4 linked regions of the Homo sapiens genome follow. The protein of the gene in region 4 interacts with the protein of the main gene of each other region in a pairwise test. Each region holds a gene or a part of one and is shown on either strand. Other genes may lie near its edges.

What was found.
Region 1: the proteins of NEMP1 (region 4) and UPK1B interact in binary tests that used the Homo sapiens proteins (3 or more experiments, as listed by UniProt).
Region 2: the proteins of NEMP1 (region 4) and SERP2 interact in binary tests that used the Homo sapiens proteins (3 or more experiments, as listed by UniProt).
Region 3: the proteins of NEMP1 (region 4) and TSPAN33 interact in binary tests that used the Homo sapiens proteins (3 or more experiments, as listed by UniProt).

The regions. Positions count from the first base shown.
Region 1 is NC_000003.12:119,183,597-119,190,621, forward strand, and holds part of UPK1B (uroplakin-1b), read left to right. Parts: intron 1-3,117; 5' UTR 3,118-3,145; coding exon 3,146-3,214; intron 3,215-4,178; coding exon 4,179-4,379; intron 4,380-6,648; coding exon 6,649-6,723; intron 6,724-7,025. UniProt on the Homo sapiens protein: Component of the asymmetric unit membrane (AUM); a highly specialized biomembrane elaborated by terminally differentiated urothelial cells.
Region 2 is NC_000013.11:44,369,464-44,376,846, reverse strand, and holds the start of SERP2 (stress-associated endoplasmic reticulum protein 2), read right to left. Parts: upstream 3,024-7,383; 5' UTR 2,822-3,023; coding exon 2,738-2,821; intron 1-2,737. UniProt on the Homo sapiens protein: Interacts with target proteins during their translocation into the lumen of the endoplasmic reticulum. Protects unfolded target proteins against degradation during ER stress. May facilitate glycosylation of target proteins after termination of ER stress.
Region 3 is NC_000007.14:129,154,699-129,161,723, forward strand, and holds part of TSPAN33 (tetraspanin-33), read left to right. Parts: intron 1-6,980; coding exon 6,981-7,025. UniProt on the Homo sapiens protein: Part of TspanC8 subgroup, composed of 6 members that interact with the transmembrane metalloprotease ADAM10.
Region 4 is NC_000012.12:57,075,782-57,083,029, reverse strand, and holds the start of NEMP1 (nuclear envelope integral membrane protein 1 isoform a precursor), read left to right. Parts: upstream 1-4,238; 5' UTR 4,239-4,284; coding exon 4,285-4,411; intron 4,412-7,248. UniProt on the Homo sapiens protein: Together with EMD, contributes to nuclear envelope stiffness in germ cells. Required for female fertility. Essential for normal erythropoiesis. Required for efficient nuclear envelope opening and enucleation during the late stages of erythroblast maturation.

The sequences.
Region 1 (7,025 bases), on a different chromosome or scaffold from region 4:
TTCTCCCCCTAGATCCTTCAGAAGCAACATAGCCCTGATTTTAGCCTGGTGAGACTCATTTTAGACCTCTGCCCTCCAGAACTGTAAGATACATTTCTGTTATTTTAAGCCACGAAGTTCGTGGTAATTTGTTTCAGCAGCAATAGGAAATGCAGACCTGAAAAACCCATCTCTCAGGTCTGTTGAGAAGATGAATATCAAATGCCTAACATAGTGCCCAGAGCATTGTAAGTGCCCAATAAATGGCAGTTTTCATCACTATTTCCTTATCTTGGAAGACAGGAGTAGCTAAATTATCATGTGCCATTGATACCAAAGGCCTAAGGGAGAAGAAGAGAATGCATAGTGAAAAAGGAGAACATTTTAGTGGCCAGAAAATTCAGAATATCTTGCCCACTGACATATCACCACCTTCCAATAACCAACCCACAGCTGGGCTGCCTCCCTGGCATTTCTGTCATGTCCTTGCCTAGGTTTCTTCAATTTATGCTTTTCTTTTTGCTCAGAGCAAGTTTCTACCTTCCTTCTTTTCTCCCACTTTTATCTGCGTTTTCCACCCTAATTGTGACTCCTGCAATTCTCCCATAGAATATTCATTTGCTCTTTCCCCTTTGTCTAAACTCTGTGTGGCAGAGTCATCTCTGGAAAAGTCTGTACGTCACGGGGCATAATTGGGTCACCCAGGCCACCTCCCTTGATCGGGGCCCCTGCAGTTCCTTTCTGGACCAATAAAGCCCCTCAGCGGTGCCTCTGTCTTTCTCCACAGCCCTCCTTGTCCCCTTGATGTGCACGGTCATTTTTCCTTTGAACCCACGCTGTAATTGCACTTTAAACTCCTTGAGGCCAGGCGCAGTGGCTCACGCCTGTAATCCCAGCACTTTAGGAGGCCAAGGCAGGAAGATCACAAGGTCAGGAGTTCGAGACCAGCCTGGCCAATATGGTGGAACCCCATCTCTACTAAAAATACAAAAAAAAAAAAAAAAGCCAGGTGTGGCGGTGGGCACCTGTAGTCCCAGCTACTAGGGAGGCTGAGGCAGGACAATAGCTTGAACCTGAGAGGCGGAGGTTGCAGTGAGCCAAGATCGTGCCACTGCACTGCAGCCTGGGCAACAGAGCAAGACTCTGTCTCAAAAAATAATAATAATAATAAAAATAAACTTCTTGAAAGAAGAAATTGTCTTATTTCACACAGTACATAATCAGTACGAGTTGATATCGGTGCTGAATTTGGCCTCTACTGATTTCTGCCCTTTCCTCTCTATGCTTCTGTTATCTGAACTCCTACGTTTCACAGTCTATTTACTTTTGTCTCTAGTTTAGATACTAACCCAACTGGTCAGGAATAATGTCTGTACATACCAGTAATGAACTTTACAATGTGACTCAACCAGCTACATGAGTAAGTTTCCCCCTTGGGGGAGTTTGTGCAGTCTAACACGCAACAATAACTGGAAAGAATGAATGAAATTTCTAAGCAGAAAGAAATGAATGGCATTTCTAAGCAGAAACTACACAGAGACGCAATGGCCCAGATTCTTCCATTTCTCCAGCAAACATGAATTGAGTACCCACTGTGTGCCAAATTCTGAGCTAAAAGTGCTCATAAATTTTAACTGAACTTGTCACAGCTACCCAGGTAAACAGATAAAGGAAAACATTTAGAGATGTCTAAACTTACTTGGAAGGTTGTTAATACTTACAGTGTAACAATGAGGTTAAAATTTAGCAAGGCTTGAGACAAATAGAAGGTTTGCCTCCCACTGCTACCCTACAAAACTAGGACTTTGACCAAATTGACTGGTTTGCTATCTTGTGGGCACCTTGCTCTTCTGTCTCTACTCCCTAACTTTTCCTTTCTCTTTACCTGGAATGTCACCCACCCCCACCTCACTCCCACACATATCCACCTCTACTCTACATATCAAACCATACACATCCTGCAAGACTTACGTCTTCCCGCCTCAGGACTCTCACAATATTTCATCTCACTACATGTAGTATAATTGTGTGGGAATGCATCTTAGTTTCCCTACTAACGCAAAAAATCCTAGAATACAATAATCTCCCTTACATATCTTTGTATGCCTCAGAATGCATATTGAACCATTTAATACATTTTTTATTTACAGCAGGAATGCATGAATTGATTAATTAAATGTTGAGAGCTGTAGATGGCTTTTCTCAAGGTGCTTCAAGTGCAGAAGCCCAAGTGATTGACCCACACACTTACCTTTGTGTTCCTTCCAGAAAATCCTCAGGGAGGTGAGAGACCCATGTTCAGCTGTGTATGGCACCAAAGTCTATACATAGTTTCTGGGAGTCACTGTGGGCTGTGGGGAAGCACGTGGACTCTGGAGTCACACACACCAAGGTCTCTAGCCTAGCTCTGCCACTTACTGGTTGTGTGACCCCAGGGAACTTAATTTACAAATTTAAGCTTTAGTTTCCTCATCTGCAAAATGGAGCCTCCTCGCCTTTCTTCTTTTGCTACCGAACTGGGTTATGAGAATTAGATGCGTGCATGCAAAGCACCTGGTAGAGTGGCACACACCTGGCAGAAGGAAGTAAATTCTAGTCCCCGTTTTCACTTACCCTCATATACAACGGGGCACTTTTTTATTTGCCAACTATTTCTTTGAAGATAATAAAAGAGTCAGAAAATGATAGTTTTTAAAAGCACCCTGCAGTCCACATGGGAACCAACCACTACCTCTGGCCATGAGTTTACCCTTTGGGTTTCCATTTGTCATGGCCAAGGGCAGTGAGGGCTATGCCAGGGACCCTCAGTGTGTTTGGCCCTACCCAATCACCATCTCAGGTCTACCCCTTGTGCATTCCACCTTGCGGGGCTCAGTCCACCACTCAGAAGGATGCATTCTGCACACTCCTTGCCTGAAAGAACTCCTGAAAGGCACTGACCAGGCTCTGGAAGGCTATATTCTTTTCATTCTTTATAAAAGTTATGTGATTACCAAGCTCAATAATCAAATGTCCTTCATCGCTAAAAGATTATATGGCTTTGGTTTGGATGCTTTGGGAACAAGGAGGCAATACGCAATGGCTTGGTTTACTCATGTTACAGAAACTGTAGCAGTTATTTGGTAATGCTTTCAACAGTGCCTTCAGCTTGTGGGAAATCCCGAAGATGGCCAAAGACAACTCAACTGTTCGTTGCTTCCAGGGCCTGCTGATTTTTGGAAATGTGATTATTGGTGTAAGTAATGATTATTTTCCAGGAAATTCTGCACTTCCTGTAATCATAATTCTAGATGAATCAAAAGTAAGAGTTTAAAGGAAAATAATGCTGTGATTACTGGCTTCCTATATTTTTGCTTCATTTTAAGAAATGTGTTAGTAAATATGCTAGCTAGAATTTAACTGTATGTCAAAAGATCATGGTTGAAAAAGTAGATATTTTCCTCCCAACTTTAAAATATAAGTATCTAAAAGGAGTCATGTCAACCATAGTCAGTGTCTAAACACTCTGACTACGAACACACTTCACTATTTCTTTTCTATGTCACCTTGGTTTGATTTCCATGGGACTCTGCTGTTAAGGTTTTTTGGGACAGATGCTTGCATCTTGTTCTTCTCATACAGAGGCCAGTACCAGGGTGTAAGAATAATACAGAGGCCATACTGTGTGGGTCTGGTGGCATAGAAGAACATTTGTTTTGGAGTCCAGAGCTCTTGGCCCAGCTCTCCCTCTGACTCCCCATATGACTCTGGCCATCACCTTTCAAGGCTGAGATTCCTCATCTATAAAATGTGGGTGTTGGCAAAGATAAGCAGCAAGGTTCCTCTCAGCTGTCATTGATAAATATGACCAGGACCAGCTCAAATATTACAACCCAGAAATGTGGGTCATGACATGGGGGCAGGGGGAGATCATTCTCATACCAGAAAGCATTGTTTGAGTGATTCATGCCCCAAGGACATTGTGGATGGTCTGAAATTGTGTGGGTCTGTTACTAAATAGACAGAATAACATGTGAAGGGATGTATGCAACCAGTTAGTAGGATGGAAGTAGTTGTTTGATTTCCTGGCAATGGGGAGTTTAGATTAGTTGCATAAAGCCTGTGCAGGAAAGGGAGCCAGTCACTCTTACCTTCCCCACCCTCCACCCCCTTTCCCAAAGCTGCACTCCTGATGGAGCCCACCTTTCATTTGCCCCCAGTGTTGCGGCATTGCCCTGACTGCGGAGTGCATCTTCTTTGTATCTGACCAACACAGCCTCTACCCACTGCTTGAAGCCACCGACAACGATGACATCTATGGGGCTGCCTGGATCGGCATATTTGTGGGCATCTGCCTCTTCTGCCTGTCTGTTCTAGGCATTGTAGGCATCATGAAGTCCAGCAGGAAAATTCTTCTGGCGGTAAGACCTCAAAATTCTCTGGAGTTGTCTCCCTGAGCCAATTGTAATGGATTCTTTCTTCTTCACTGAGCAATGCTTTGGCTTTCAGTGGGGGAGCAGGAAGTACCAGATAAGGGGTGAGGAGGGGAAGACTTTCCCTGCAGTGAAATGGTCCACATGGAGGCAAAGATGCCCTCCACTATTGCAAGCCCAGAAGGCTCCAGTACAGAGAAGCCAAAGGGGAGACACCTGGGGGTGACCTAATGAGTATTTTCCATATTGTGCCTCTACAGCTGGTGTCTGCATACACCCAGTAGGTACAGCTAGGAGCTATATAGGCCAAAGGAGAGACACAGTGAGAATTCATTCATTAGATTTTTTTCTCTTGGCAATAACTTGTTTAAAACATTTTGATATTAATTAGGCATTAATATATTAGGATATAAAATATAAAATATGCATACATTTTTAAAAGAAAGTATAAGCTTTCAAAGATTTTTGAGCTCAAGGTTGATGATTCTGTATCATAGCCTATACTCCCCACATTATCATCCAATCTGCTTTTCAGGGACCCCAGAAAACCTTGATAAGCACCACTGTAGAGTGAGCCTTCAGCTCACACCTGCCTGTGGGGGCTTTAACTCTGTACATCAAGGAGAGGCTTCTGCCCCAAACCATAGACAGCAAGACCATGCCCTGCCTTTGCAGATGAAAGCAAATTTGCAGGCAGCAGAGCTGAGAAACCTGTTTCAGACGTGGACCCCTACTGTCTGCCCTAATACTTAGGGCAGCAGTTTCACACTATTATGGAACACGCCTCCAATCCCCCACCCCTGAAATAACCCTTTTATTCAAATGCTGCAGGACCTCAGTTCCCCCTTTATAGAATGAGTCCAGCAATGTAAGGTGCTTGTTAGTTTACTCTTCCTTTTAACTAACCACTGTCCTGGTTCCAATGGATTACAGAACATTTACATTCTCTGGTTCCTTAGTGTGCGTAAGTTCCAGGGCAAAAGTACCCACTTTTGGTGGGTGGGGAAAGGAATACAGGAAAAAGGGAGAGGAGACACAGGTGTTCCTAAAGACAAATTCACTTGCATCCCAGCCTCACTTTGGGCCAGCCATGTGCATGCCTGACAACCAGGAGAACTGAGCTGGGGAGGCAAAGGGGCTAAAGGAGGAAACACCTCACTGCATACCTCCTTTCTGGAGCGTCTTTACCAGGAGCCAGCAAAGCTCTTGGCAAGGAGCAAGGCAGCAGCTAACACAGGAAAAAAATGTTCTGGGGCCTCTGAAGGTGCTCCTGCTGTTGACTGTAGCCAGAGCTTTATTCTGGGCTGAGTAGTGAGGGCAACAGAGGGTCCTGCTCGGAGAGCCTCCCATACCCAAAGAGGAGGACAGTTTTCCCTGCCTACCCTGCTGACACTGACCACAGTGCCCCTTCTCCCAAGAGTGTGTGCAAGCCTGGGGAAGGCAAAGCTGGAACTCTTGCAAACAGTCCCCATCCCAGATTCAGAGGTCATTTGCTGTTCGGATATTTTCCAGCCAGAAATAGCATCACTGTCATGTGGAGGTATCATGTGCACACGCACCCATGTGCCCATGCTCACGCACACACACCACCACTACCACACACAGCAAATGCCATTTCACTCAACTGAACCAATGTACTTTGAGTGTGGGTGCGTGTGAAAGAACACCCACAAATGCTGTGCACTTGAAGCCTGCCTCTCCTCTGATGAGACTGGATGCTTGTTAGGAAGGACCCTAGATGTTCAACATTATCCAGTTCATCTTTTTCTGAACTCCGTGATTCTAAATTTTCAGCAAATTGTAAAGAAAATTTCTCCAAAATTCCAAAATTAAAGGGGATTTATGAGGCCCTATACTGTATGTGATACACTAAGACTCTCTTGCCACTCACTGAGCATGCACATGCATGTAAATGCACACATGTAAATGAGCATGTAAATGCTCACATGTGTGTGTGCACACATACACACCAGTTCATTCTCTTGTACTTGTTTTTCCCAGTTAAAATAGAAACTCAGGAAACTGGACTGAGGAAGGTCTGTATTCAATGGCTATTTGTTCTCTGGAGAAAAGGAGAGAATTGAGCTGACTAGCACCAAGCCTCAATCCAAGCCACTGGTCAATGAGGGTTTGTTGAATAACTACATGAGTGATTACATGATTATATGATAAATTTGCTGAAAAAACATAATTATTTGGGCAAGTCGCTCTTTGACGGGTAAATGTAATTCTTTTATCTCATTTATTTCCCTTCCAGTATTTCATTCTGATGTTTATAGTATATGCCTTTGAAGTGGCATCTTGTATCACAGCAGCAACACAACAAGACTTTGTGAGTACAACCTCAAAAAGCAAAATAATATGAATTATCATTATTATAACAACCAACATGTATTAACCCCTTACTATGTGCCCAGGCAATCCAATATGCACAGTAATAATACATCTATCATTTTACTTAATCCTCATAAATCTATGAAATAGGCATTATCACTCTGGTCATTTGAGAAAGGAAAAAAAATGAGACAGAAAGGTAAAATGACTTGTCTAAAGTGACATAGTTGGCAACTGAAAGAGCAAGAATTCTGAACCCAGATGGCCTGACTCCCAGGGCCCAAGTTTGTAATCCCCTGT
Region 2 (7,383 bases), on a different chromosome or scaffold from region 4:
CTTCATTCTGGAGAAGTTACTACTGTATAATCACAAAATGATTATTCCATTTCTCTGTTTCCTTTTTTTTTTTAGACGGAGTCTTGCTCTGTCACCCAGACTGGAGTGCGGTGGCGTGATCTCGGCTGACTGCAACCTCTGCCTCCCGGGTTCAAGCCATTCTCATGCCTCAGCCTCCTGAGTAGCTGGGATTACAGGCGCCCACCACCATGCCTGGCTAATTTTTGTATTTTTAGTAGATACGGGGTTGTGCCATGTTGGCCAGGCTGGTTTCGAACTCCTGACCTCAGGTGATCCATCCGCCTTGGCCTCCGAAAGTGCTGAGATTACAGAAAGTGCTGAGCCACCACGCCCGGCCTTGTTTCTTGGATTAGTCTGCTATCTGGGAGAATAATATTAATTTATCCGTAAGCTATTAGCTAATAATAAAATACTGAAGCATCTGCATACAATTAAAGAAGTTTATTTCTGAACAATTAGTCTGAATTTTCAGTTGGAATCTATACTTGTTCCCATTTAATGAATTTCATCCTGAATAGTGATCTTTTGCAAGTTACTTTTAACAAAGTATAATCATATTTGACTTGTAATTGAGAACATGAGATTTAGGATTTATCAAGTTTCTCTTTGAAAGAAAATTTCATTTTTCTATTGGATAGTAATCTATTTACAATAACATTAACCAAAATCCCCCCAACCAATGCAAAGCAAACATTGATTGTGGCTTGGTCTGGAAACCTTTCATTACAAATTTAGCTGGGCCATTTAAAAACTCTTATAGGTGCAAGGCACTATGAGAGTTTCTTGGGGGCCACCCCATGACATATCAGAGCATATTAAAATGAACTCATACTGTACATTAAATATAATTTAAATGTAGCTCTGAACATTGAGTTGAATGGCAGGTGACTGGTACCTTTTCTAGGTATTTAAACAATGTTTTCCCAATTTTTCCATTTTCTTCTTTTATTTTGGAGCTAATAATTTTTGTTTTGGGTCCCAAACATTTTCTAGTTTTCTTGAAGAACTTGAGGTGGCAGACACTGAGTCTACAGAACCTAATAGATACAACAGCCTTAGAAATTAGTTCTTGTTTTCTTCTTACTTTTGTAATCAGATAAGCTGTCAACTGAGATCTGACAACTGAACTCCGGTTTTTTAGTTCATGAAAAAGAGCCACATGACTAGTTATTTTTCACTGTGTCAGTTAGCAGGTCTGATCCCTTGAGAAGGAAGAATTGATCTCTTAGGGATATAAAACCCTGCATGCCTTAACATCAATTATAAGTTGCTTCTCAATGTCAACCCGGGCAGCCATTTTTTTTTCCTCAGTAAAAATAGGGAAAACATAAATCAATGTGACAAAATGGTTCCAATTTGATGGCATCTTGGCATTTTGCTGCCTAATCACAACTGAGTGATATAATTCCTAAATGAGAGAATTTTAAGGATTACTTAGGTCTTGTGTATAAAGCTCTGAGTAGAGTTGAGTTATGCTTAGACTTGTGTATAAAGCTCTGAGTAGAGTTGAGTTTGGTCCTAGAGTTTCTCTGCCGTAATACTGCTTGGTTTTGCAAGAATTCTGGTGTGATGATTACAGATCTAGCTTTTTGCTTAGTTAATCAAACCAATATAGTTTCTTTGGCTAAAAGGAATTGATTCATCAAATCTGCAAGCTTTCCCAGCCAAACTCCAGGCTTCAGCTGGATTTCCACTTAACTGTACGGGGTAACAGATCCCAGGCGCCTTTGCTCATATACTTGGAGACCAACTTCGCCAAACTACCCATGCGACTCATGCCTCTGAATGTCCAAAGTCACAGGCCTCGCATTTTCTGTTGATGATAATCTGCTTTGCTAAAAGAAACTCCTGAGTGTAAGGCACAGGTTTTACTTAAAAGTCCAGTTGCAAAGCTTGAATTTACAGTTCTAGGGACACCGAATGCCTGACAATAAACTGGTCTCTAAAGTTATACCATGAGAATGAGTCTGAATTCACCAAGTGGAAAGAATAGGAATGCTGCCCTTAGACTTTAGCCTAGGGGCTGAGGGAGGTCTCGCTGGAAGAGAGGTAAAAGAGAAAAAAGAGGCTGGAGGGAATGTGGGTCCAAATCTCACTCCCCATTTTGAGCTCTTTCCACACCTCCAGTGAAACCGTCACAAAGGGGCTGGAAAGAAAACTTGATCCTGGTGCAAGTCTGTTGGGGAGGGAAGACAGGTGGAGTCCGGGAGGAGATGACAAGTGGCCTCCATTTAGCCATTGATTCATTCATTCATTCAACAAACGTTCTAGAACATACTAGGTTCCAGGCTCTGTGTCATGCAACGTTCTAGAACATACTAGGTTCCAGGCTCTGTGTCATGCAGTTGACTTAACTGGCCCCTAAGGATGAGGCTTTCCGTCTTTCTCCGGGACAAGGCCCAGCTGTCTCCCGGGCAGGGGGACAGGGGGTGCGGGTCGGGGAGGAGGGCTCCTCTGCGCCTCCCTGGTAGCCCAGGTAGCCACTCCCAGAGGGGCCACGACCAACCAGGGCCCTCTCCGCCCACGAGGACGCCAAGCAGACCGCGCCGCCCTGAACCCAGCTCTCAGCCCCCACTCTGCAGGACCCCGCAGAAGGGGCGGGCCGGGAGCCGGGAGGCCGGACCCTGCGCCGCTACCCGCCCGGCCCCGCCCCCACCTTCCGCCCCACCCCGCCGGGCTGCAGGGCTCTGCCTGGCCGGCGCCGACCCCGCCTTACCAGGGTTTTGGCTACGTTCCCCCTCTGGGTGATGTTTTTGCTGTGCTTCTCGTTAGCCATCCGGATCCGCTGTTTGGCCACCATGGCTTGTGCGCTCTGAAATGCTCCCACCTGCAAGGATTCCCCCTGCGTTAGCTCCTGCGACAGGGCCGAGCGCGTCCCGCCGAGGCCCCCGCGGCCCACCCGGGCGCTGCAGGTGGCAAGGCGTGGCCCCGAGCCCTGCGCACCCCGCTCCCCGAGCCCCGGCTAGCCGACTCCAGAGAGAGGCCGCAGCCCGGACGGAAGTAATCTCTCATCTCAGGAAACCCTTTCCGACTTCCTCGCCATCCTTCCGGTCCCCGCAGCCACCTACCCCGCGCGGCCACCGAGGCAGGCGCGACCGCACGTCCTCCCGCGCCGAGCGGCCGGAGCGCAGCGCGCAGAGCCGGGGCCCTGCAGTGTCGCGGTCCTGTAGCCGAATGCTGCGGGGCCGAAGGTTCGGGCGACCACGGCGTTTGTGAGCGCGTCGGGGACGGGGACGCGGCCCCTCCTGTGTTTGTCGGCCGGTGACCCACCCCAGCCCCGGGGAAGGGATGAGGGCGGCCGCGCTTCAGGCCGGGCCGCGCGGTCTCCCCTGCACCGCCGCCCCCTGGACGAGGGCTGGACCCAAGGCGGTGGTCAGGGACCTCAGAACACAAGTAGAACCAGTCCAGGCCCGGGCCCGCGCTGCCCGGGTATGGTCCACCAAACGAGCCTTCTCTTTAAGGGTCTCGAGAAGGGCCCCACGCTGGGGGACCCCACTGCAGAACTTTTCGTGAGGGCTGCAAGGAGGGCCGCGTTGTAAAATAAAGAGGAGACACGAAGCGGCATCCCCTGAGGGTTGGGGATCGGGCCGTGAGGATGGAGTTGGGACAGGCCTTTTTGCTTTGGTAGTTGTAGGGGTTGCATTGGAAGATGGGCCAGCGGCAGAGCGGAGCATGCAGGAAAGAGGAAGAGGCCTTGGACCTGCAGCCCAGGTCGGATTTGGTGGTTACTGTCTAAATCTGAAGCTTTGGCCTGCCTTGACTCCCCACCCACCCAGGGCAGCTTGGACCTCTCTCTAGCCACCCTTGTCCCGAGGGGTCTGAGTGTCTCCCAGACTAAACTGGGCATTTTCTGCAGTGGAAGGATAAAAATGGAAGCGTTTACGCGCCTCCCAGACACTGGTATTAGGGCTCAAGAGCTCTACAGATTGCCTGGGGAGGTAGGGGTGGAAGGGGTTCAGTTCCTCACTTGGAGTTAGCTCTTAGAAGCTCAGAAGAGTGGAGGCGAAGAGGGGACATTCAGCCTGGGAGATCTGGGGCAGCGGGAAGTGGGGATACCGGGTCGGGGTGAAGGCAAGCAGCAGCACCCCCAGCATGGGGAAGAAGGCCTGAGGCTGTCTCTGGCCACTGCATCTCTAGGCCTTCTCTTGGAGCGGGAGGTGGCTGGGTTTCCAGGGAATTTTGTGTGAGTAAAATTTTCCCATGTCATTGGAGAGTTAGGAAGAGCTCCTCTTTTGGGGCCTTTTTCCAAGCGGGTCCCCCTCACCCCGCTACAGGCTTCTTGTCACTCAGGCTTCAATAAAGGCCATTCTGGGGGCTGCTTGCTGTAACCTAGAAGACAGAATTGCCTAGGATCATTAGTAGAGTCATTTTTTTTTTTTCCTACTCTACAGGCCAATTAATTTGAAACAAGCTTCTATGGTCTTTTAACTGTTAGCATCACCACTGTTGTAACAGGACCATAAACCCAGTCTGCCCCACTCTAGTCCCATGTTTTTAATAACTGTTGGCTCTTTTTTAGGGGTTTGGGTGGGGGGATTCCTACCTCAGTGATCCCTGCTGAGCCTGGCTGTTGTCTGTGGTCCAGAAGGTTCCTTTACCTGACTCACTCCTCTCAGATCATGTCCAAATACCAGGAGACTGACCCAGGTCCTCACCAGGTGAGTAGAGGTCTGGCTCTGAGCGACATTAAGGAAAAGACACAGACAGAGACTGTTTTCTCTTTGGGTCTTCACATTCAGTGAGTACAGTTCAGAAGTGTTCTTAACTGAGAGAAGCCCCTTTTGGGGAAAATTTTTCTTTACTGTTGACTCCTTTTTCCTGCTATGCTTCACTTTTCCGGCATTTTAAATTAGTTTGTTTTAATTATGAGTAGACTACATCTACACAGTAAATAGTCAAACAGAAATAGGATAGAAAATGAAAAGTAAAGGTCTCTCTTTCCTTGCCACCCTCCCCAAAAAGTTCCCACGGTTCCTGGGTTGCCCTTCCAGTATATACAAGACTATTTGTATATTCCCTTCTAAAAAAAAACGGAATAGTAGTATGCAAACTGTTCTGCCACGTGCTCTTCTAACTTAATATATCAACATTATCATATCACTTATATATGACCTCTTTCTTGTAGTTGTGTTATGTCTCATAGTATGATTATACAGTAATATATTGAACTGATGTAACCATGGATGATTATTTCCAGTTTTTCTTTTTTTGTGGTTGCCAACAATGCTTCAGTGAATATCCCTGTACATAGATCAGTGTGTACTTGTGCAGGTATATCTGCGTGTGATATTGTGAAATATATATTTGATTGTAGTCCCTGTTTCCTGACCTAAAACTCTTAAATTCCTTGGACTCTCCAGAGTGATGAAAATATCTTACCTTTTGTATGCTAATGAGATGGTTGGTGACTTGGAGACCCTAGATAGCTTCAGGATGGGGACTGGTCACCAGAAAGATCAAGGCAGGATTAGAGGGTTGGGACTTTTAGTCCCACCCTGTCCCCCCAGACCTCCACAGAGAGGAGAGGGGCTGAAAGTTAAGTTGATCACCAGTGACCAATGATGTAATCAATCAGACATATGCAATGAAGCCTGTATAAAAGCCCAAAGGATAGGGTTTGTTGAGTTCTGGAGAGCAGAACATCAGGTTCCTAGAGGGTGGCGTGCTCAGAGAGGATATGGAAGCGCCACAGCCCTTCCCACATTTCTTGCCCTGTGCATCTCTTCCATCTCACTGTTCATCTATATGCTTTGTAATATCCTTCCTCATAAATGAGCAAACAGAAGTAAAGTGTTTCACTGAGTTCTGTGATCCACTCTAGCAGATTAGTCCAAACAAGGAGTGGGTTGGGGGAACTCCAGTTTATAGCTGGGCAGGCAGAGGTACAGGAGACAACCTACTACCTGGGATTGGCATCTGAAATGGGGGGCGGTCTCATAGGATCAAACCCTGAGCCCCTGCTATTTCCAGGTACATAGTGCCAGAATTGAATTGAATTAAAGGACACCCAGCCGGTGTCTGTTGCAGAATTGCTTGGTATGAGGGGAAACATCCCCCACACATCTAGTGTTAAAAGTGTGCTGGCTGTGTGAGAGTGGGAGACAACACTTTGGTTTCTCCTATATCACAACACTGGAATTAGATTCCTGGAAGTGAAATTGCTGCAACTTTTTATGTCCTTGGTTGGATGAAGAAACCTCGTGCTGTGACCTCCACTTTACCTGCTCACACCCCTGCTTTTGTCCTCTGCAGTCAGGCCAGCTCCTCTGCAGGTCTCAGTCCTGTTTATTGCCTTGAGGATCACCATCATGGACCAAGCAGTTTCCCAGCATGGATCCTGGCCCTTCTTATACTCAGCCTCCAGACCCTTATGTGGGGAGCTGGGGCTAAAGTCTATAAGCTGTGTTCCTGGAGTTCCAGAGTCACTACTAGACTACGAAGGAGCAAAGCATGGAGTCGTCTTGCTCTTTCGAGGACTTAGGAGGGGAAAATGGAAACTTGATTAAGGAGAACTTCTCCTGGGTTCATCTATGGTGGCAGCATGGAGTTTTGTAATATACCACTAGCATGCAGTGCTCAACCACAACTTTTAAAATTGTTATGGGCAAAGTGCCAGGAAACTGCTAACTGGTTAAAATTTAATTTTGGCTGGTAAAATTTTCAGCCTTTATTTTTATTTTTGAGACAGAGTCTCACTCTGTCGCCCAGGTAGGGGTGCAGTGGCGCAATCTTGGCTCACTGCAACCTCTGCCTCCCGGGTTCAAGTGATCCTCCTGCCTTAGCCTCCTGAGTAGCTGGGATTACAGGCATGCACCACCACGCCTGGCTTTTTATATTTTTAGCAGAGACGGGGTTTCACCATATTGGCCAGGGTGGTCTTGAATTCCTGTCCTCAAGTGATCTGCCCACCTCAGCCTCCCAAAATGCAGGGATTACAGGTGTGAGCCACCATGCCCAGCCAATTTTCAGCCTTTAGAGCAAGAAATCCTAACAAGCCTATGCCCATTAATCATAAATCTGCCCCACTTAGGGCACTGGATGTGTGGCTGTACAGACTGAGTTTTACCCATCTTTATAAATGATGCTACACTACTAAACTGTGATGCATTGGACATCTCTCATTTTTCTGTGGCTGACCAGCATGCAAACATTCTTTATATTTGGGGCACTCCATCACTGTGAGAGTCTTAGGACCTTCTTTCCCACCGTGGAGCATAAGGGGGCCACATACTTGGTCTCCCAACCCCTCACAGCTAGGGTGGCGTGTGATCTGGCCAATGAGATTCTCCTTTTGGGAACTGTGAATCTTGATCAAGTGGTGCAAAGACAGAGACACGTTAAAATTCATCTTGGTGGTCGAGT
Region 3 (7,025 bases), on a different chromosome or scaffold from region 4:
CCATTGCACTGCAGCCTGGGCAACAAGAGCGAAACTCTGTCTCAAAAAATAAAATAAAAAGTATAAACTAACAAATTGGGGTGGGAGGAGGTAATAGACTATTTTTCAAGAACAATTTTACAGAAAAATTGAGAAGATAGTACAGAGATGGACGTTTCTCAAAAAACAAAAAATAGAACTACTAGACAATCCAGCAATCCCACTACTGAGTGTTTATCCAAAGAAAAAGAAATGAATATATTGAAGAGACATCTGCACTCCCATGTTACTGCAGCACTATTCACAATAGCCAAGAAATGGAATAACCTTAAGTGTCCATCTACAAATGAATGGATACAGAAAATATGGTTCATATACATAATGGGATATTATTCAGCCATAAAAAAGCATGAAATCCTGTCATTCGTGACATAGACAGAATTGGAGGTCATTATGTTAAGTGAATAAGCTGAGCACAGAAAGACAAATATTGCATGTTCTCACTCATATTTGAGGGCTAAAAAAGTGAAACTCATAGAGGTAGAGAATAGAATGAGTTACCAGAGGCTGGGATCCAGGGGCAGGAGGATGAAAAGAGGCTGGTTCATAGGTACAAACATATGGTCACATAGAAGGAATAAGTTCTAGTGTTCAACAGCACAGTAGGGTGACTATAGTTAACAACAATATATTGTATTTTTCAAAATAAATTTAAAAGGCTTCTAACACAAATGATAAATGTTCAAGGTGGTGGATGTTCTAAATACCCTGATTTGATCATTAAACATTGTACACATGTATCAAAATATCATATGTATCCCATAAATACATACAATTTACATATATCAATTAAAAACATTTTAAGATAGTATTGAGAGTTCCTATATACCCCATACTCTGTTTTCCCTGTTATTAACACATTAGTATGATACATTTGTTGTAATTAATAGTATTATCATTATGGTCTACACTTTATTGGTTTTTTTTTTCATTTTTATTTAATATCCTTCTGTTCCAGAATCCTATTCAAGATACTACATTACTTTTTTCTTTCTTTTTTTTGAGACAGGGTCTTGCTGTGTCACCCAGGCTGGAGTGCAGTGGCACAATCATGGCTCACTGCAGCCTCAACCTCCTGGGGTCAAGCGATCCTCCTCCCACCTTAGCCTCCCAAGTAGCTGGGACTACAGGCATGCACCACCATACTCAGATTATTTTTATTTTTATTTTTATTTTTTGTAGAGATGAGGTCTACGTTGCCTAGGCTGGTCTCAAACTCCTGAGCTCAAACCATCCTCCCCGCTCGACCTCCCAAAGTTCTGGGATTCCAGGCGTGGCCCACCATGTCCTGCCCTACATTACATTTAGTTGTCATGTCTCCTTAGGTTCCTCTTGGCTGTGACAGTTTCCTAGACTTACCTTGTTTTTAATGACCTTGACAGTTTTGGGAAGTGCTGGTCAGGTATTTTGTAGAATGTCCCTTTATTGGAACTTGCCTGCTGTTTTACTCATCATTGTAATACTGGGGTTATGGCTTTTGGGAGGAAGACCAGAGAAGTCAAGTGCCATTTTCATCACATCACATCATATCATATCATACAAGTGATTCAGCAACATGATCATTGTTGATGTTGGCCTCGATCGCCTGGATGAAGTAGTGTTTATCAGGTTCCTCCGCTGTAGAGTTAGCCTTTCTCCCCATGTTCCACACTGTGCTCTTTGGAAGAAAGTCACTATGCACAGTCTGCACTGAAGGAGTAAGGAGTTAAGCTCTACCTCTTTGAGGATGGAGTACCTACATGAATTATTTGAAATTCTTCTATGTAGGAGATTTGTCTTTTCTCTGCTATTCATTAAGTCACTTATTTATATCAGCATGGGCCCACAGATGTGTATTTTTTATTTTGGGTAATAATTCAATATTTCTTTATTTCGGTGCTCAAATTGTTCTAGCCTTGGCCATTGGGAGCTCTTTCAGTTGGCTTCTGTGTCCCTTTGGGATGCTCACATTGATGAGGATACTGATGTGGGGAATTCATTTTTGTTTCTTCGTGAGCATTTCCTTTCTTTGGGGCACTACAAGATGCTCTAGGCTCATCTCGTGCCTTTCCTGCCCCCATCCTAGAATCAGCCACTTCTCCAAGGAGCCCAGGGGATGGCTATTTTCATTACAAGGTGATCATTCACCTTTCATAGGGATAATGGTACTGGTGTGTGCAAATTATTTTATATAATTTGACTGACAACTTTTCAGGAACATACATTTTGCTAAAAGCTAGACTCAGCCATTTTAAAAGTTGTATCTAGCTCTTAGAAGTTTCCAGCCAGGCTTCATTCTAGTCGGAATGTGAAAAGCTATCCAAAGAAGAGAAATGTCTTTATCTCCATCCTCATCGTGAAAGGAGGTCATTCATGATATTGTGAGGTGCCATAAGGATTTTACAGAAAATTCTAGCATAGTGGAAAGAGTTCCAGAATGAGATTGGGAGGTTGGATTTGGTCCAGATGGTGCACTGCACCCATATGCACTTGGTTAAATGTTACTTCCGCTCTTTTGGCCTCATCTATAAAAAGAGGTGAGTGGCCAAAACCCATTTCTAAGGTTCTGTTCACCTCCAAACGTGATGCTATGAACAGCAGCAGCAGCACTAACTTTGGAATGGCAGTAGCTTTGAGGAATCCAGGGTGGGAAGTGGGGGCAGGAATGGGGGTGTGCAAGGTCAAGCTGTGAAATGCAGAATTTGAGAGCTTAGGGGAGAGATATCATTAGTGATCATATTAAATATTAATAATAATATTAAAGACTTAATCTTGATTTTAATGTAGCCTGTATCTGTGGCTCTAGATCCCTGGCTGATTATTCTTTAGGCTTGTAGGTTCTCAAGCTTGGCTGCACATTGAAATAACCTGGAACACATTCAGAAATACTGTTGCCTAGGTCCCAATGCCAAAGATTCTGATCGACTTGGTTTGGGATGCAGCCTAGGCATTAGCAGTTTTTTAAGCCTCTCCCCCAACAACCCTAAGTCCCAGGCGATTCTAATGGCAGCCAAAGTTGAGCATGTGCTTTCAGCTATAAACGCTCTTGTCCCTCCACCATATCCACGCATGGATTAAGGGTCCTCAGTGTACCATCTGCATAGCAGCAGATGAATTGGATCTGGACAGTGTATTAGTTTCCTGTTGCTGCTGTAACAAATGACCGCAAACTTAGTGGCTTAAAACAACACACATTAATTTTCTTATATTTCTGGTGGCCAGAAGGCCAAAACAGGTTTCACCGGGCTAAAATCAAACAGATCTCGCTGGGCTAAAATACAGCAGCCCCGCATTCCTTCGGGAAGTGCTAGGAAGAGCTCGCCTCCTTGCCTGCTCCAGCTGTTAGAGGCAGCCCTCATTCCTCCATCCGTGGCACCACAGCAGTCCAGCCTCTGCCTCCATCACCGTCTCCTTCTCTGACTCTGGCCCTCTTGCCTCCTTCTTAGAAGGTCTTTTATGATTATACTGAGTCCTCAGGGATAATTTCCCTAGCTCAAAATTCTTAATCACATTTGCAAAGTTCCTTTGGCCATGAAAAGTAACACAATCACAGGTTCCAGCAATTAAGACGTGGACATCTTTGAGGGGACATTATTCTCTCCACCATAGATAGAGACAGAGCAACTGCTGTCATTACAGGCCCATAAATACAGTTAACTTACTCTATGATATGTGGCATCTCTTTACTTTGCCCATTTTTTCAACTTTTATTTTAGGTTCAGAGGTACATGTGCAGGTTTGTTATATAGGTAAATTATGTGTCATGGGGTGATATTTCATAACCCAGGTAATAAGCATAAGTAGTTTTCCGTCCTCTCCTTCCTCCTACCCTTCACTCTAAAGTACATGTGGCCATGTGTACTCAATGTTTAGTTCCCACTTACAAGTGAGAACACATGGAGTTTGGTTTTCTGTTCCTGGATTAATCTGCTTAGGATAATGGCCTCCAGCTGTATCCATGTTGCTGCAAAGGACATGATTTCATTCGTTTTTATGGCTGCGTAGTATTCCATGGTATATATGTACCACATTTTCTTTTCTTTTTTTTCTTTTGATATAGAGTCTTGCTCTGTCGCTAGGCTGGAGTGCAGTGGCACGTTCTCAGCTCACTGCAACCTCCGCCTCCCGGGTTCAAGTGATTCTTCTGCCTCAGCCTCCTAAGTAGCTGGGACTACAGGCATGTGCCACCATGCCCAGCTAATTTTTGTATTTTTAGTAGAGATGGGGTTTCACCATGTTGGCCAGGATGGTCTCAATCTCTTGACCTCATGATCCACCTGCCTCAGCCTCCCAAAGTGCTGGGATTACAGGCATGAGCCACTGCACCCGGCCCCACATTTTCTTTTTCTTTCTTTTTTTTTAGAGATGAAGTCTCACTCTGTTGCCCAGGCTGGAGTGCAGTGGCATGATCTCGGCTCACTGCAACCTCCGCCTCCCAGGTTCAAGCGATTCTCCTGCCTCAGCCTCCCAAGTAGCTGGGACTACAAGTGTGTGCCACCATGTCCAGCTAATTTTTGTATTTTTAGTAGAGATGGGGTTTCACCATGTTGGCCAGGCTGGTCCCAAACTCCTGACCTCGTGATCCACCCGCTTTGGCCTAAGTGCTGGGATTATAGGCGTGAGCCACCGTGTTTGGCCTGACCCCACATTTTCTTTTTCCCGTACTGTTGGTGGGCATTTAGGTTGATTCCATGCCTTTGCTATTGTGAGTAGTGCTTGTTTGGCCTTTCTTGTTTTAGCTGTGCTACGATTTAATCAGATACCATCTTTGTGGAAAATTATACACCCTGGTGAAAATTTGACATGAAAAACAATGAGAGCCTGGAAGCAACAGAAATCAAGAGCAGATACACATTTTTCAATAGTTCAGTAAAATGACACTCAGAACTGTAATTGGCTGCAGTGGGTTTTAAAGGGCAGACAGAGATGCTCACTGACTCTGGTGGAGGACTGGCCACCAGGCCTGGGGAATGACTGGCATCTCTGTCATGTAGTTTCCCTGCCTCCCCCATGCTCCGTGAGCCTGGCAGTGCTGTGGGACAAGGCGCCAGCTGGCACCTGCAGCTCTGCTAGCAGCTCCCACCCTCCTGGACAAAGAGTATGAAGGCCAGCAAATAACACTTTGGGCCCTGAGTTAGAGGCATGGTCAAATGATGTGAGGTGGGAAGAGACCGGGGCCAGCTGAGTGTGGTGACTCACACCTGTAATCCCAGCACTTTGGGAGGCTAGGGTGGGAGGATCAATTGAGCCCAGGAGGTCAAGGCTGAAATGAGCTATTATCATGCCACTGCACTCCAGCTTAAGCAATAGCACAAGACCCTCCTCCCTCACCCCGCAAAAAAGAGGGGGCTGTATATACAGGCAGAGAAGAGTTCTGGAAGACGTGGTTTTAGATAAAGGTTTGCCATTTACTGCTGAATGCACCTGCCCTCCCCTGCCAGATGGCAGAGGACCTTCAACAAGGAGGCCTACAGGGAAAAATGAGGGACTCATCTGACCCTATTACCTGTTCTGGGGGCCTAGCTCCCTTCTTCCACCAAAGCCCCATGGTGGCTCTTTCCAGCTGCTTTCCGTCTTGCAGGACAGTGGTGTCTAGCCAGCCATCTCCTTCCCCACTGAGTTGGTCAAGACCCTGCTGCTGAGAACTCTCTCCTGCCAGAGCTTGGCCCCATCTGTTGCCATGGCAACAGCCAGCTGCTGCTTAGCACCAGCCTGGAGACTGGGCACAAAAAAAGGGTGGCCAAGGGAAGTAGGCACTGGGGCTCTCCTGCACCCCTGGAGGCCTGGGGGCTAGGGGGTAGATAAGGCCTCTTTGGGGTCTCCTATTAGTCTCTGATGGGTTTGTTCTCTCAGGGAGAAGCCAGGAAATTTGAAAGATCTAAACTCCTCTCTATTCCTCCACACTGGAATCAGAGTTTGTGAAGATAAAGGTTCCTTTGCCAAGGCAGTTCCAGTGCTTACATACATGCACTCACACACAGTCCTTCACATTGGAGTGCACTTTCTTTTTGTACTTGACATGATATTGACCTCTAAGAGGGTTAGAGAGCTGGGAGTATGCAACCGCCCAGGCCTGCTTTAGGTATAAAACCTGTCCTTTGATGCAGATAGATTCGAATTCAAAACTTTTCCATTTATGTGTGACCCTGGGCAAGTTAACTATTAATAATGATAGATAATATTTATTGTCAGGCATTGTGTTAAATTATTTCCATGCATTATTTTAGTTGGTTCTTACAGTAATCTTGTCAGTTGTTTGTTCTTACTTCCCATCTTCAGATACAGAAACTGAGGCTCAGAAATTTGCCCTATGTGTACCCAAGTTTGACTCGCTCTGAAGACTGTGTCCTTTTTAATTTTAACTTCAATTTATTAGAGACGGGGCCTCACTCTGGCACCCAGGCTTCAGTGCCATGGCACAGTCATGGCTCACTGCAGCCTTGCACTCCTGGGCTCAAACCATCCTCCTGCCTCAGCCTGCTGAGTAGCTGGGACTACAGGTGCACACCACTGCACCCAGCTAATTATTATTTTGTGTGTGTGTCTAGAGACAAGCTCTCACTATGTTACCCAGGCTGGTCTCAAACTCCTGACCTCAAGTTGATTCTCCTGCCTTGGCCTCCCAAAATGCCCAGCCTGAAGCCCATATTCTTAATCACTCTTCAGTATTAACCTTGGATTGCCTTAATTTCCTCATCCGTAAAATAGGCATAATGTCTGCCTCACAACCTAATTGTGTTACGAGCACTGAATGAATAATGAAAAATATGATGTGGGTAAAAGTGTCTCATGGAGGTAAAGCCCTGACAGATTCTATCAGCAGAATCACTGGGGAGGTGAAAGATGCTCACCTTTGGGTCCCAGGAAAGCAGTCCTTCTCCTGCTCTCCTAGGTTTCTCATGGCATTCAGGGCTCTCTGGTTTCCAGAATCTCAGGGTCTGGCTCTTTTCCTGTCTCCACAGGTGATTTCCATGGTGATGGTGGCTGTGGGTGTCTACGCTCGGCTA
Region 4 (7,248 bases):
TTTATTTATTTTGAGACAGGGTCTCACTCTGTCACCTAGGCTGCACAGTGGTGCAATCACAGCTCATTGCAGTCTTGACTTCCCAGGCTCAGGTGATTCTCCCACGTCAACCTCCCAAGTAGCTGGGACCACAGGTGCATGCCACCACACCTGGCTAATTTTTTTTTTTTTTGTATTCTTTGTAGAGACGGGGTTTCACTATGTTGCCCAGGCTGGTCTCAAACTCCTAGGCTCAAGTGATCCACCTGCCTCGGCCTCCCAAGACATTGGGATTACAGGCATGAGCCACTGCACCTGCCCAATTTATTCATTTTTTTAGCAACAAGGTCTTACTCTGTCACCCAGGGTGGAGTGCAGAGGCATGATCATGGCTCACTGCAGGCTCAACCTCCCAGACTCAAGTGATCGTCCCATCTCAGCCTCCTGAGCAGCTGGGACTACAGGCACGTGCCAACACACTTGGCTAATTTTTGTATTTTTGTAAAGACAGAGTCCTACTATGTTGCCCAGGCTGGTCTTGAATTCCTGGGCTCAAGCCATCCTCAGACCCGGTCTCCTAAAGTGCTGGGATCACAGGTGTGAACCACTGAGGCTAGCCAACTTTATTTTTAGAAACATTACATGTACAGAAAAATTGAAAAGATAATATGGTGAATTCCTATATACCCTACATTCAATTTCCTCAATTATTATCTGACATTAGTATGGTACATTTAGCACCATTAATGAAACAGTATTGAAACATTATTATTAACTAAAGTCTACAGTTTATTCAGATTTCCTTTGAGTTTTTGTTGTTGTTGTTGTTGTTTAGACTGAGTCTTACTCTGTCACCGGGCTGGAGTGCAGTGGCACTGATCTTGGCTCACTGCTGCAACCTCCGCCTCCCAGGTTCAAGTGATTCTCCTGCCTCAGCCTCCTGAGTAGCTGGGTTTACAGGTGCCCGCCATACGCCCAGCTAATTTTTGTATTTTTAGTAGAGACGGGGTTTCACTATGGTGGCCAGGCTGGTCTTGAACTCCTGATCTCGTGATTCGCCCGCCTTGGCCTCCCAAAGTGCTGGGATTACAGGCGTGAGCCACCATGCTCAGCCTCCGTGTTTTTTTTTGTTTTCTTATTTTTTGAGACGGAGTCTTGCTCTGTCGCCCAGGCTGGAGTGCAGTGGAGCGATCTCAGCTCACTGCAAGTTCCGCCTCCCAGGTTCACACCACTCTCCTGCCTCAGCCTCCTGAGTAGCTGGGACTACAGGTACCTGCCACCACGCCCGACTAATTTTTTTTATTTTTAGTAGAGACGGGGTTTCACCATGTTAGCCAGGATGGTCTCCATCTCCTGACCTCATGATCCGCCCGCCTCAGCCTCCCAAAGTGCTGGGATTACAGGCATGAGCCACCGTGCCCAGCCTCGTTTTTTTAAACTAATGTGTTTTTCTGTTCCAGGATCCCATCTAGACCACCACATTATGTTTAGTTCTCAAAAACATAATGGGCTGGGCATGGTGGCTCATGCCTGTAATCCCAGCACTTCGGGAGGCCGAGGCGGGCAAATCACCTGAGGTCGGGAGTTCAAGACCAGCTTGACCAACATGGAGAAACCCCATCTCTACTAAAAATATGAAATTAGCTGGGCGGGGTGGCACACACCTGTAATCCCAGCTACTTGGGAGGCTGAGGCAGGAGAATCGCTTGAACCTGGGAGGGGGAGGTTGCGGTGAGCCAAGTTTGTGCCATTGCACTCCAGCCTGCTCAACAAGAGTGAAACTCTGTCTCAAAAAACAAAAACAAAAAAGCCCATAATGATGTTTGGATGACTTTGACAGCTTTGAGGAGTACTGGTCAGGTATTTTGTAGGATGCCTCTATTGGAATTTGTCTAATGTTTTTCTCAAGATTAGAGTGGTGTTATGGGTTTTGGGAAGGAAAACCACAGAGTTAAAATGCCATTTTCATCTCATGTTATCAAGGGTACATAGTATCAACATGATTGATGCTGACTTCCCTAGGTCAGCTGAGGGAGTGTGTGTGTGAAATACAGGATGACCATATCAGCACTGTTGGCCTAGACTTTTCCTTCTGAGAATGAAATCTCTTCTCTTGCCCATAGCTCAGCCCCATTTTGACTTTTTTTTTTTTTTTTTGAGACAAGAGAGGCTCGCTCTGTCACCCAGGCTGGAGTGAAGTGGCATGATCTCGGCTCACTGCAACCTCTGCCTCCTGGGCTCAAGCAATTCTTCTGTCTCAGACTCCTAAGTAGCTGGGATTACAGGAACCTGCCACCATGCTGGGCTAATTTTTGTATTTTTATTAGAGATAGGGTTTTGCTGTGTTGGCCAGGCTGGTCTCGAACTTCTGGCCTCAAGTGATCCTCCCACCTCAACCTCCCAAAAGTGCTGGGATTACAGGCATGAGCCACCATGCCCAGCCCATTTTGACTTTTTTTTTTTTTCTCTTTTGAGACAGAGTCTTGCTCTGTCACCCAGTCTGGAGTGCAATGGGGCGATCTTGGCTCACTGCAGCCTCCGCCTCCTGGGTTCAAGGGATTCTCCTGCCTCAGCCTCCTGAGTAGCTGGGCTTACAGCCACCTACCACCATGCCTGGCTAATTTTTGTATTTTTAGTAGAGACGGGGTTTTGCCATGTTGGCCAGGCTGGTCTCGAACTCCTGACCTCAGTTGATCCACCCGCCTCGGACTCCCAAAGTGTTAGGATTACAGACCTGAGCCACCATGCCCGGCCCATTTTGACTTTTAAAAAGGTCCTTGTTTTAGACCAGGTGCAGTAGCTTACTCCTGTAATTTCAGTAATTTGGGAGGCCAAGGTGGGATAATCACTTGAGGCCAGGAGTTTGAGGTCAGCCTGGGCAACATAGCAAGATATTGTCTCTACAAAAAGTAATTAAAAAAAATTAAGCCAGACATAGTGGCTCATGCCTGTAGTCCCAGCTACTTGGGAGATTGAAGTGGGAGGATCATTTGATCCTGGGAGTTCGAGGCTGCAGTGAGCTGTGGTTACACCACTGCATTCCAGAAGGGTTACAGAAGGAGACCTTGTCTCAATAACAACAACAACAACAACAACAACAATGAAACAAACAAATAGCTGGGCATGGTGGTGCATCCCTGTAGCCCAACCTATCTAGGAAGCTGAGGTGGGAAGATGGTTTAAGTCCAGGAATTCAAGGTTACACTGAGCTGTGATGGTGCTGTTGCACTCCAGCTTGGGTGTCAGAGAATGACCCTGTCTCTAAAAACATTAAAAAAAAAAATTCTTGTTTTGAAAGCTTGAACCTTCCCCAGGAGATGCCCCCTTCCTTGAATTCCTCAATTCATTTGGCTCTATCATCTGTAGTTTTCCTACCCATCACCATCAGATCCTCTTAAAAAAAAAGTTTCAATTTCTACTAACAGTTTCTGAACACCTGGATCTCTGCTGGGCCCTGTGTTAAATCATTGAATGGGAAGCAGCTAATCCATATAAATAACTCCGGCTTTGGAGTCAGTAGGATTTAGGTTGGGATCACAGACCAGATGAACTATGAAATCTTGGGCAGGTTCCTGTGGCTGTCTTGGCTTTGGCTTCTTAAATGGAGAGAATTATATTTGTCTCACAAGATGATAAGAGGAATAAATGAATCTTTCTTAATCCTAACATTAATTTTACTTCCAAAAATAAAAATCCTATGAATACATTTTTAAAAGCTAATGTTTATGCTTATAAAATATTGACACACACTTTTTTGTGACTTCTATTTTAAATCCTTTAGGACTTTGGAGAACCACACTTTTGTCAGTCGACTTTAAAAATCGTCCTATCAGGGTCCTACTCATAAAGCGATCTCAATTGTAGGCGTCTCATAACAGAAAGGTCGTGATAAAAAGTAACCGAAAGAAAACGGAAGGAACTTCAGACAGCTTCTATGGAAATACCGAGTTTGGTCAAGGAGGCCTCTCCCATTCCGATTTTCTATTGGTTAAACTTACCATCAATCACACCAGTTGTAAATAAACTGAAGACGGAAGCATGTTGTTAGCGGGGTGGGATCTTCCTGTCGCCACTGCTAGGGTGAGAACCCATTTTCCAATAGGCTGAAAGCTGCTTTTCCCGCCCTCTCTCTTCAGTTGCTAAGGGGCGGGACTCATAGGGCCCTTGGAGGGCTGGGTGCTCGAAGCCCTGCCCATCCCATTGGTTGATAGGGGCGGGTTTCGTAGAGGATAGGCTGCTGTCGTTGCCCGTTCGGAGTTAGTTGCTGGGGTAAGGCACGTGAGGAGGAGGTGGCTTGAGGCAACCATGGCGGGAGGAATGAAAGTGGCGGTCTCGCCGGCAGTTGGTCCCGGGCCCTGGGGCTCGGGAGTCGGGGGCGGTGGGACAGTGCGGCTACTCTTGATCCTCTCCGGCTGCTTGGTCTACGGCACAGGTACCGCCCGGGCAGCAGCTGCCAAGGGGGCAGGTGCCGAGGGGGTTATTTTTGGAAAAGGGATTGTCCCGAGGGCGCGGGCCGTTACTCTGCAGAAGGGCGGTGGCTCTACCGAGGGCCGCCGGCGTAGTGTGGTGGAAGAAACTTGGCAGGCTAGTGGGCGTCGGGACTGAGGGTCTGGGCCCTGAAGCGGGCTGGGGCAGCTTCCAGAGTGGGGAGGAGCCTGAAGCCTTTTGGCGGAGACAGGAAGGGAGGCCTAGACTGGTTGAGAAGCAGTCCTGGGGGCTGTGTCTCGTTGCAGAAGCCTTGAGTTTCTTGGTTAAAAGCGAGAAAACCTGGGGACCATTCTGGGCAGGCAGAGCAGCCGCGGGAAAGGGACCATCTCATTCATTCGGCAAATCAGCAAACACCATCTGAGCGTATGCTCTGTCAGGACGCAGGGCACGGGTGGCAGAACGGATGTAGTTGACAGAAATGCAGTGATCTCTACTATCTTCTGCTCTTGTAAAACCTTGATTCCTTACCGCCCCCGGCCCGCGAGATGGAGTCTAGCTCTGTCACTCAGGCTGGAGTGCAGTGGTGCGATCTCGCTCACTGCAACCTCCGCCTCCTGGGTTCAAGCAATTCTCCTGCTTCAGCCTCCGGAGTAGCTGGGATTACAGGCACCCGCCACCGCGCCCGGCTAATTTTTGTATTTTTAGTAGAAATGGGGTTTCACTATGTTGGCCAGGGTGGTCTCGAACTCCTGACCTCGTGATCCATCCGCCTTGGCCCTCCCAAAGTGCTGGGATTACAGGTGTGAGCCACCGTGACCGGCCAAATAATGCATGTTTATTTTAGATGATTTGGCAAGGTACAATTAAGTATAAAGAAGCAGGCAGAAACCACACTGTTAATCCATTCAGAAGCAATCTATTTTAGCACACTTTCTTCTGATCTTTTTCCACATATTTTTAATTTTTTATGAATTGATAATTTGTATCCAGTTAGTACTCTAGTTCTCTTCCCTGGAGGCTGCCAGTCGTTACCAGAGATAGTTTTCTCGTTTGATTTTGTAGTACAATAATTTTCCCAAGTAATTTAAAATTCTTTTTTTGTTTTTTTGTTTGTTTGTTTGTTTGAGATGGAGTTTTGCTCTTGTTGCCCAGGCTGGAGTGCAGTGGTGCAATCTCAGCTCACTGCAACCTCCGCCTCCTGGGTTTAAATGATTCTCCTGCCTCAGCCTCCTGAGTAGCTGGGATTACACTTGCCCGCCACCACGCCCGGCTAATTTTTTTTTTTTTTTTTTAAACAGAGTCTCCCTCTTTCGCGCAGGCTGGAGTGCAGTGGCCAGATCTCGGCTCACTGCAAGCTCCGCCTCCCAGGTTCACGCCATTCTCCTGCCTCAGCCTCCCGAGTAGCTGGGACTACAGGCGCCCACCACCACGCCCGGCTAATTTTTTGTATTTTTAGTAGAGAGGGGGTTTCACCGTGTTAGCCAGGATGGTCTTGATCTCCTGACCTCGTGATCCGCCCGCCTCGGCCTCCCAAAGTGCTGGGATTACAGGCATGAGCCTCCACACCCGGCCTTAAAATTCTTTGTAAATGTTGTCTTACTTGTATTACATTCCAATGTATGTGCAGATGTTCATTTAATTTTTTTTCTCCACCCCCCGCCCGCCCCGCCCCGCAGAATGTAGTCTTGCTGTCTGGCCCAGGCTGGAGTGCAGTGGTGCAATCTCGGTTCCTGTTTCAAGCCATTCTCCCATCTCAGCCTCCCAAGTAGCTGGGACTACAGGCATGTGCCACCACACTCGGCTAATTTTTTTTTTTTTGAGACAGAGTTTCGCCCTCGTTGCCTAGGCTGGAGTGCAATGGCACTATCTAGGCTCACTGCAACCTCAGCCTCCAGAGTTCAAGCACTTCTCCCTCTGCCTCCCGAGTAGCTGGGATTATAGGCGCATGCCACCATGCCTGGCTAACTTTTTGTATTTTTTGTACAGACGGGGTTTCACCAGGCTGGCCAGGCTGGTCTCAAACTCCTGACCTCGTGATCTGCCCACCTCAGCCTCCCAAAGTGCTGGGATTACAGGCGTGAGCCACCACGCCCAGCCACACTCAGCTAATTTTGTATTTTTAGTAGAGATGGGGTTTCACCATGTTGGCTAGGTTGGTCTCGAACTCCTGACCTCAGGTGTTCCGCCCGCCTCAGCCTACCAAAGTACTGGGATTACAGGCGTGAGCCACCATGCCTGGCCTTCATTTATTATTTTTTAGTGACGTGGTTTTGCTGTGACACCCAGGCTAGAGTGCAGTGCACAATCATAGCTCACTGTAACTTCCCACCTCGGTCTCCCCAAGTAGCTGGGACTACAGGCACGTGCCATCTGCCTGGTAAAAATCATTATTAATGTTGTGGATTAAACATTTGGTTGGATATTGGTGGTTTGTACTGTTGGTTGGATATTTGTGGTATTTCTAGTTTTTCATTGTTGTAAGTTTGTGAACATCTTTGTGTATACATTTTTATTTATTTATTTATTTATTTTTTTGAGATGGAGTCTTGCTCTGTTGCCCAGGCTGGAGTGCAGTGGTGCCATCTCGGCCACCTAGGTTCAAGCGATTCTCCTACCTCACCCTCCCGAGTAGCTGGGATTACAGGTGTGTGCCACCATGCCCGGGTAATTTTTTTGTATTTTTAGTAGAGTGGGATTTCGCCATGTTGGCCAGGCTGGTCTCAAACTCCTGACCTCAAGTGATCTGCCCGCCTCAGCCTCCCAAAGTGCTGGGATTACAGGTGTGTGCCACCATGCCCGGGTAATTTTTTTGTATTTTTAGTAGAGTGGGATTTCGCCATG